Linked DNA regions of Homo sapiens. The protein of the gene in region 1 interacts with the protein of each later gene in a pairwise test. Each region holds a gene or a part of one and is shown in the gene's direction. Other genes may lie near its edges.

Region 1 (3,819 bases):
CTCCCCTGGGCTATGGCTGCTGGTCATGTTCATCTGCACACCCCAGGTTTCCTACAGCGGGTGGGTACAGGCCCAGTCCTAGCCATTAGCCCTGGTTCTTATTTGGGACAAAGCCCAAGCTATTTACTCTTCTTCCCAGACACCTCCCGGGGTTAGTTCACCCCTGCAGAACAAACATTCAAAGGAGGCAAGTTTCACTAAGATAATTAACCCTGGTCATCGCAGGGTGACTCCAAAGAGAATTTGGGCTGGTGCATTCCGATGCACCTTGACCGTCCCATACCAGAATTGTGCCAGGTGCACCTGGAATTTTCCAAGACAGATGTGAATCTTAAGGGGAGTATTTTGTCCTCTTGTGAGGAAAAGTACTTTAAAATGTGCAAAACTGAGGAATCAGAGCTTAAGGAAGACTCAGACCCCATTCTGGCCAAACTTGAAAGGCTGATCTTGTTGCTAACTTTGATTGCCACTTGCTATCCCACATGAGCATCAACCCAGAGTTCTCATAGGTGTTGGTGATCTTGTTTGGGAACTTGGTTTTCACAGCAGGAACTGATTACTTAGCAAGTGCCCTAATTGAAGAAAACACATTGCTCCCAATCTCCATTGGCTTTTGTGAAAAATCTGGTCCTGAGCAGTTAGACATCCTCCTTTCCAAGCTTTTTATAGAACACAGATTAATCTTTAAGCTCTGCTTCTGATGTTGCCCTTCTTTACTGAAAACAATTCTGAATCATTAGTGTAATTAAGAAAATACCGTCTGAGGCCATTTTTATTTTGTATTTGCATATGACACCAAAGCTGCAAAACAGGAACTAAGCATGGTAATAATGCTGGTCCAAAGGTGGCCAGGTATGAACACTTCCTTCTAGGCCTGCTGCCAGGAGGAGAGCTGGCTTATTGATGGGAGCATTGTATGCTGCTGAAACCTCCTTACTTGGGGGTTCTCCCCAGAGACAGAGAAGAAAACCTAAGGCAGGCATTAGTCTTGGAAACCAGTACCAGCTAGTATCTCATGCCAATGAAAAGCATCCAGGACAAGCATGTTTGCAAAAAACAAGCATGTCCTGTCTCTTTCACATCTCTGGCACATCCATGATCACCCTGAGTCAGACCCAAATAAGGGGCAGCAGAGACAGCCAGATGAAGCAGCAATTTGAGGGTAGTAACTGGTGATGACAAAGCCCTTCTCAATTTTACTTTATTAACTTAGCCAAGGCTTAGTTCCTGTTTTGCAGCCTGATGGAAATTTAATAGATCATTTGAAGTATGTAATCACCTGACATGCTAAGTGTCTGTGTGTGCCGGAGACACAGAATGGCAACCTGACCCCACCCTGTCCTTGTCTAGGAAACACGCTGGAGAAGAAAGGTGGCAAGGAGTTTGTGGAAGCTGTCCTGGAACTCCGGAAAAAGAACGGGCCCTTGGAAGTAGCTGGAGGTGAGGTGGGAAAGCCACCGTGCTTATCTGGTTGTGACACATGCAGTATTAGGAAAGCCATTTTGTGAGAGGGCTTAGAATTCAGAGGTGTGTGGCAGCACAGCCGCATCTTCAAGATGGAGGCCAAGGACAGCCTGTAGCTTTACATCTTAGAGTTTCACCACATGCAGGTTGTCTGGGAAAATCACCTTTGCATTTTTTTTTATTACTTAAAATAGCTCCTATATGTTTGATGTCTAGATCACAAATTTTAAGAAATTATAGGAGCTGAGTTTGGTACATCTAAGAGCTGAGAGTGAGTGATACTGAGCCATCTGCAAAACTGCTGGTGAGAGATACAAATTAAAAATCTTCAGCCATCTGTGTGTGTAAGAGGAAACATATAAATACACATTTCTCATTTGCCAATTACACCTTCCCTGGTATAAGGGGAAGAAAACGACTTGGCATCTGATGTGGGGAGAATTATTGCTAAGACCTGGAGGCAGGGTACTTCTTACTGCTTCAGGCCTGAATTTAGGTGGTCATTTGGGGTGTGCAGGACAGAGCACCTCCTAAGGACCTGAGAGTCCAGTCAGTGGGGAGGCCCAGCTCCCCCACCAACTGTGTGAGGACAGATCACCCACTTCCTCACTTGGGGCTCTGGTTTTCTCTTCTTACTACCCGATTCCAATGCCTATTGTGTCTTTTAAATCCTCTGTTTTAAAAATGAATCTTAAGCTCTCTCGGAGGGTCCACCAGGCCGTGCACCTCTATTCCCAGTGACAAATGACACCCCTTCCAGGCTAGTCTCAGGATCCAGTAGGATTCCCTTTGCTGATCTGTGCCTTTGACCTCTGCTCTGCCACTTCTGTTTTACCTGCAAGGGGCATGACATACAGGGTAGTAATTATGAAGTTCTCCCAGGCAGTTCCACCAAAGTCCCACATTGTACAAGGGAAGGCATACACAGTTTTAACTACCTAGCCAGGGGCAGCTGGCCTTTCCCCAGGCCCTTTAAAACACCTGTTTGACCAGCCTGTGGGTCCTTTCCCATCGGGGTTCCAGCTTGAGTCCTGCTGGTAGCCCTTGGCACAAGGCCTGGTAGGCAGCCTGGTGCTGCCATGTACCAAACTCTGCTGGGGAAACCTCAGCCACAGCAGATGCAAACCCATTAGGTATAGCATGGTTCAAGATATTTTTGCTTGTTTCAATAACACTTTTGTTCTTGATTTTAAGGGCTATTTTAGAAACTGCTTTAAAATATTTTTGAAAGTATAAAGAGGTGAATAAAACATACTCCTGTTCCACTGTGCAAAGATAGTCACTGTTAATGTTTCTTTCCAGTCGTTTTCTATGCATAGTTTAGCCATGACTTCTCATGGGGACAAACCCACTGGTTTAATTCAACCCCCAATGTCAGGTTTTTATAGGTCAGCCCAGAGTTCTCAAGCCCAGTCACAAAGCAGAGCCAGGACTCAAATTCACACCCTGTGACTGAGCTGTTTCCACTGTACCATGAGACACTACCCACAAATCGCTCCTTCTCCAGTATCTATGACACGACCATAACAAACCATACCCCTTGGACAGATATTCCTTAAAAAAAAAAAAAGTTTCAGAAATAGCCAACCAAATACAAAAAGTTTGGATGTTTTACTTTAGCAGTGGTGTGGAGACTCTGGTGTGCTCTTGTATAGAAGCGTAGCATGCAGCTAAACCCAGTGCCCTGGAAACCTTCTTTGCAGAGCATCTGTGGACAGGGGTTCTGGAACATGCTCTGGGAGACATGGTACTTTGCAGTTTGTGGCAGACCCCAGGCCTGTGTCCTTAGATCTGGCAAGGGAAAGGCAAGTCTTTGGTGGAGATGTATAGCTAGAAAGGGGCCCCTCTTCTAGGAAAAGAAAAACACAGTTCCTTAAAAACTAATCTAATTCTGCCACAAATAAACAGGATCCGTTATTCACACAGTGAGGCCATCCTCAGCAGGGAGAAGACAATGGCAGAGTGGAGATGCTGGTCAGGTTGCTTAGCAGATCATTTAAAGCAGTTGCTTTCCTAGTAGCTTTGTCCTGAATTGGGTTTGGGAGATTTAGAGAATACATCATAGTAGAGACAAATACATCATATTGGTGTGCAAGTCGATAATTAGCACACCAGTCGACTTGAAGAAGAAGGGTTGGAAACCCAAAACAATTATTTTGAGGCTGCAAATGTTCTGACACGTTGAGTTTGCGTTCAGTTGAGTTTTGATGGATAAGGCTCTGCCTCTGGGAGAACCGTGTATGCTTTCTGAGAGTGGAGAGAGGCTTACTACGAACTTGGTCAAAATTCCTGGTGGTGACACATCATAATGCCAACTTTCCAAGGGTGTGGCTTGGCTCCAGCTCACGTTGGAAT
Region 2 (3,461 bases), on another chromosome or scaffold:
TTATAAGGATAGGTGCTGAGTGCTACCCAGGAAAAAAAGGTCCAAAGGATAACAGGAGATAATTTGAATATCTATGTGATGCCTGGAAAAAGCAAAATCCTTCCTAATCATTCTACTATTTTTTGTTGGAATAATAAATTACCACAGACATCTGGTGGTAAACATGTAATTAGCAACCTAAAGATAGCTAGAATTAGCCAGACCAGGTAATTGATTGCAGGAAGCTGAAGATAACTGGCCTATGCCAGGGAGTTCAATAACCATTTTCCTCAATGCAAAATTCCAACCTCATGTTAGAAATATTACCTAATATAGTAGATATCTACTTTATCCAAGTGAGTAATTAACTAGAGATAACTACATGAAGCCAGTACCTGGAATAAACAAATTCTTCTCAGTACTAGTTGAACAAACAACTAGCAATTACTAGGAAAACTGGTTGAACATAGAAAGTTTAGTAACCATTCGAGTCAATTCTGTATTCTTACTTTTTTAGGATTGTTGACTAGGTACTATGGATTTGGTAACTAGAGTTACCTGAGTAAGAGTTAAATACAGAATCCTCCATAAAACTGGAATAACTGGTTGAAGACAGAAGTATCACATTGCATTCTCCTCAGTATTTCTCATTTCTTGTTGGAATAATAAGTTGGTTCTGTCAATGGGTAGTGAGTACCTAGGTTATTACAAAGCAAGAAATAAGAAGAGATGACTAGAATAAATATTTGATACCAGAATGGTGAAAAAAACATTCTTTTCAAATAGAAACTCTAATTTCCTGTGTAATTAATGAGTTACAATTAGTTAGTACTGGAGATATCTATATGAGATGTGGACTTCATTTTTGGGGGGTGGTACATACTTAACAGATGAACTGCTGGGTCACATGGTAGATCTATTTTGATTTTCCAAGGAACCATTACACTGTTTTTTATAACGGCTGTACCAATTACACGTCTGTCAACAGCGTGTAACAGTGAGGTGATAGTTCATTGTGGTTTTCATTTGCATTCTCTGATTATTAACGATGTTGAGCACATTTTCATATACCTGTTGGCCAGTTGTGTGTTTTCCTTCTAGAAATGCCTATTCAAGTCCTTTGCCTATTTGTTAACCAGACTATTTATTTATTTGCTATTGAGCTGTGTGAGTTCTTTATATATTTTGGATATTAACTCATTATTAGATACATGGTTCGCAAATAGCTTCTCCCAAACCATAGCCTGCCTTTTCATTTTGTTGACTGTTGGCTGTGCAGAAGCTTTTAGTTTCCAGCCTGCTCACTTGCCCTATATATTTCAGCTTCCTAGACCCCCACATTGAGTCAATGTGTGAGCCAATTACTTAGAATAAACTGTATCATATATATAATTCATAAATACTACATGATAGTAAATATATATTTATGATATATAATATTACACACACACACACACACACACAATATCCTGTTGGTTTAGTTTCTCCTTCTCTGAGGAACCCAGCCTGATACCGAAACCCAGCCTGATACCGATACCCAGCTGAGCGAGTGTGTTTGCTGATCTTGACCTCTGGAAGCCAGTGCTTTAAACCATGAGAATGAAAAATTGTGAGGCACTATGTGGATGCTGGGAGAAGTATGTGAGATGGAAAAGTTGTTTCATGGCATCCAAGAAGTGAATGATCCTCAAGGTGTAGCAGAGGAATTTGTAGGAGAGAGGGATGATTGACGTCTTCGTATAGCCCTCCATCCATCCCAGTTAGCATGGAGGGATTTTAGATAGGTCATACAGAAACTGGGTAATGATGGCAGGTGTGGAGGAACAGAATGTACCACTGAATGGGAGGTCCGGGGGAAACATGTGGCGGAAATATCCTCCCGTGCCACGTGATCTGCCAAAATTGAACATGGGGAGTTTAGGAGGGGTGACATGTCAGTTTGGGAACTATCTTTAGGGGTGCTAACCCAAATCTCCCTTTCTCCAATTAGAGCACCCTGCCTTCCTCATTAGATGTCACCCCCCCCCCCCGCCCCCGACTTCATCCGCCATGTCCTGATGGTGCTTTGTGACGTATAAGGCCTTCCTTCCCGCCCAGGGCTACCATTGGCTGGGTAGTGGAGTGTTGACCAATCACAGCTCAGGGGCGTGATTGTCTCGTCCTGGGATCGCGAGAGGGGTATATACAGGGAGGCCAGGCAGCCTGGAGTTAGTCGACCGTTGCGAGACGTTGAGCTGCGGAAGATGAGTCCAAAGCCGAGAGCCTCGGGACCTCCGGCCAAGGCCACGGAGGCAGGAAAGAGGAAGTCCTCCTCTCAGCCGAGCCCCAGTGACCCGAAGAAGAAGGTGAGTGACCCTCCCAAGCTCCTCCTCGTCTTCCCCTCGCCTCCTTCCTCACAAGAAGCCTCTCCTGTCGTCACTTGGCAGAACCCCCCAACCCGGCCCCCACCGCTTCTGAGGACACGTCCCTGTTCCCAGCCTCCTCCATCCTCGTCCCTAAACCAGAGCCCTTCTGTGATCTCCCTGTTGTCCTTCCAGACTACCAAGGTGGCCAAGAAGGGAAAAGCAGTTCGTAGAGGGAGACGCGGGAAGAAAGGGGCTGCGACAAAGATGGCGGCCGTGACGGCACCTGAGGCGGAGAGCGCGCCAGCGGCACCCGGCCCCAGCGACCAGCCCAGCCAGGAGCTCCCTCAGCACGAGCTGCCGCCGGAGGAGCCAGTGAGCGAGGGGACCCAGCACGACCCCCTGAGTCAGGAGAGCGAGGTGGAAGAACCACTGAGTCAGGAGAGCGAGGTGGAAGAACCACTGACTGTGTGGATGGCCAGCTTTTCCCCTGTCTCCGAGAGCACCGACTAAGTTCAGGCCCAGCCGCCAGACCTCAGAGATCTCACCAGCGGGGTGCTTGCCATTCTGAAGATAATAAAATGAATGTGTTGCAAATTGATCTGAGTGACTCCGTGTTCTCTGATGGTGGGGAGGGAGGGAGGGAGGGGGGAAGAGGTGGTGTGTGGTGAGGGAGGGAGGGAGGAAGAGGTGGTGTGTGGGGAGGGAGGGAGGGAGGGAGGAAGAGGTGGTGTGTGGGGAGGGAGGGAGGGAGGAAGAGGTGGTGTGTGGGGAGGGAGGGAGGGAGGAAGAGGTGGTGTGTGGGGAGGGAGGGAGGGAGGGAGGAAGAGGTGGTGTGTGGGGAGGGAGGGAGGGAGGAAGAGGTGGTGTGTGGGGAGGGAGGGAGGAAGAGGTGGTGTGTGGGGAGGGAGGGAGGGAGGAAGAGGTGGTGTGTGGGGAGGGAGGGAGGAAGAGGTGGTGTGTGGGGAGGGAGGGAGGGAGGAAGAGGTGGTGTGTGGGGAGGGAGGGAGGGAGGAAGAGGTGGTGTGTGGGGAGGGAGGGAGGGAGGAAGAGGTGGTGTGTGGGGAGGGAGGGAGGAAGAGGTGGTGTGTGGGGAGGGAGGGAGGGAGGAAGAGGTGGTGTGTGGGGAGGGAGGGAGGG

Evidence for each region.
Region 2: the proteins of MACROH2A1 (region 1) and VCX2 interact in a two-hybrid assay, tested with the Homo sapiens proteins (one large-scale study listed by BioGRID).

The regions. Positions count from the first base shown.
Region 1 is NC_000005.10:135,343,589-135,347,407, reverse strand, and holds part of MACROH2A1 (core histone macro-H2A.1), read left to right. Parts: intron 1-1,350; coding exon 1,351-1,440; intron 1,441-2,727; exon of another isoform or gene 2,728-3,819. UniProt on the Homo sapiens protein: Variant histone H2A which replaces conventional H2A in a subset of nucleosomes where it represses transcription. Nucleosomes wrap and compact DNA into chromatin, limiting DNA accessibility to the cellular machineries which require DNA as a template.
Region 2 is NC_000023.11:8,169,405-8,172,865, reverse strand, and holds VCX2 (variable charge X-linked protein 2), read left to right. Parts: upstream 1-1,598; 5' UTR 1,599-1,759; intron 1,760-2,076; 5' UTR 2,077-2,222; coding exon 2,223-2,324; intron 2,325-2,516; coding exon 2,517-2,834; 3' UTR 2,835-2,922; downstream 2,923-3,461.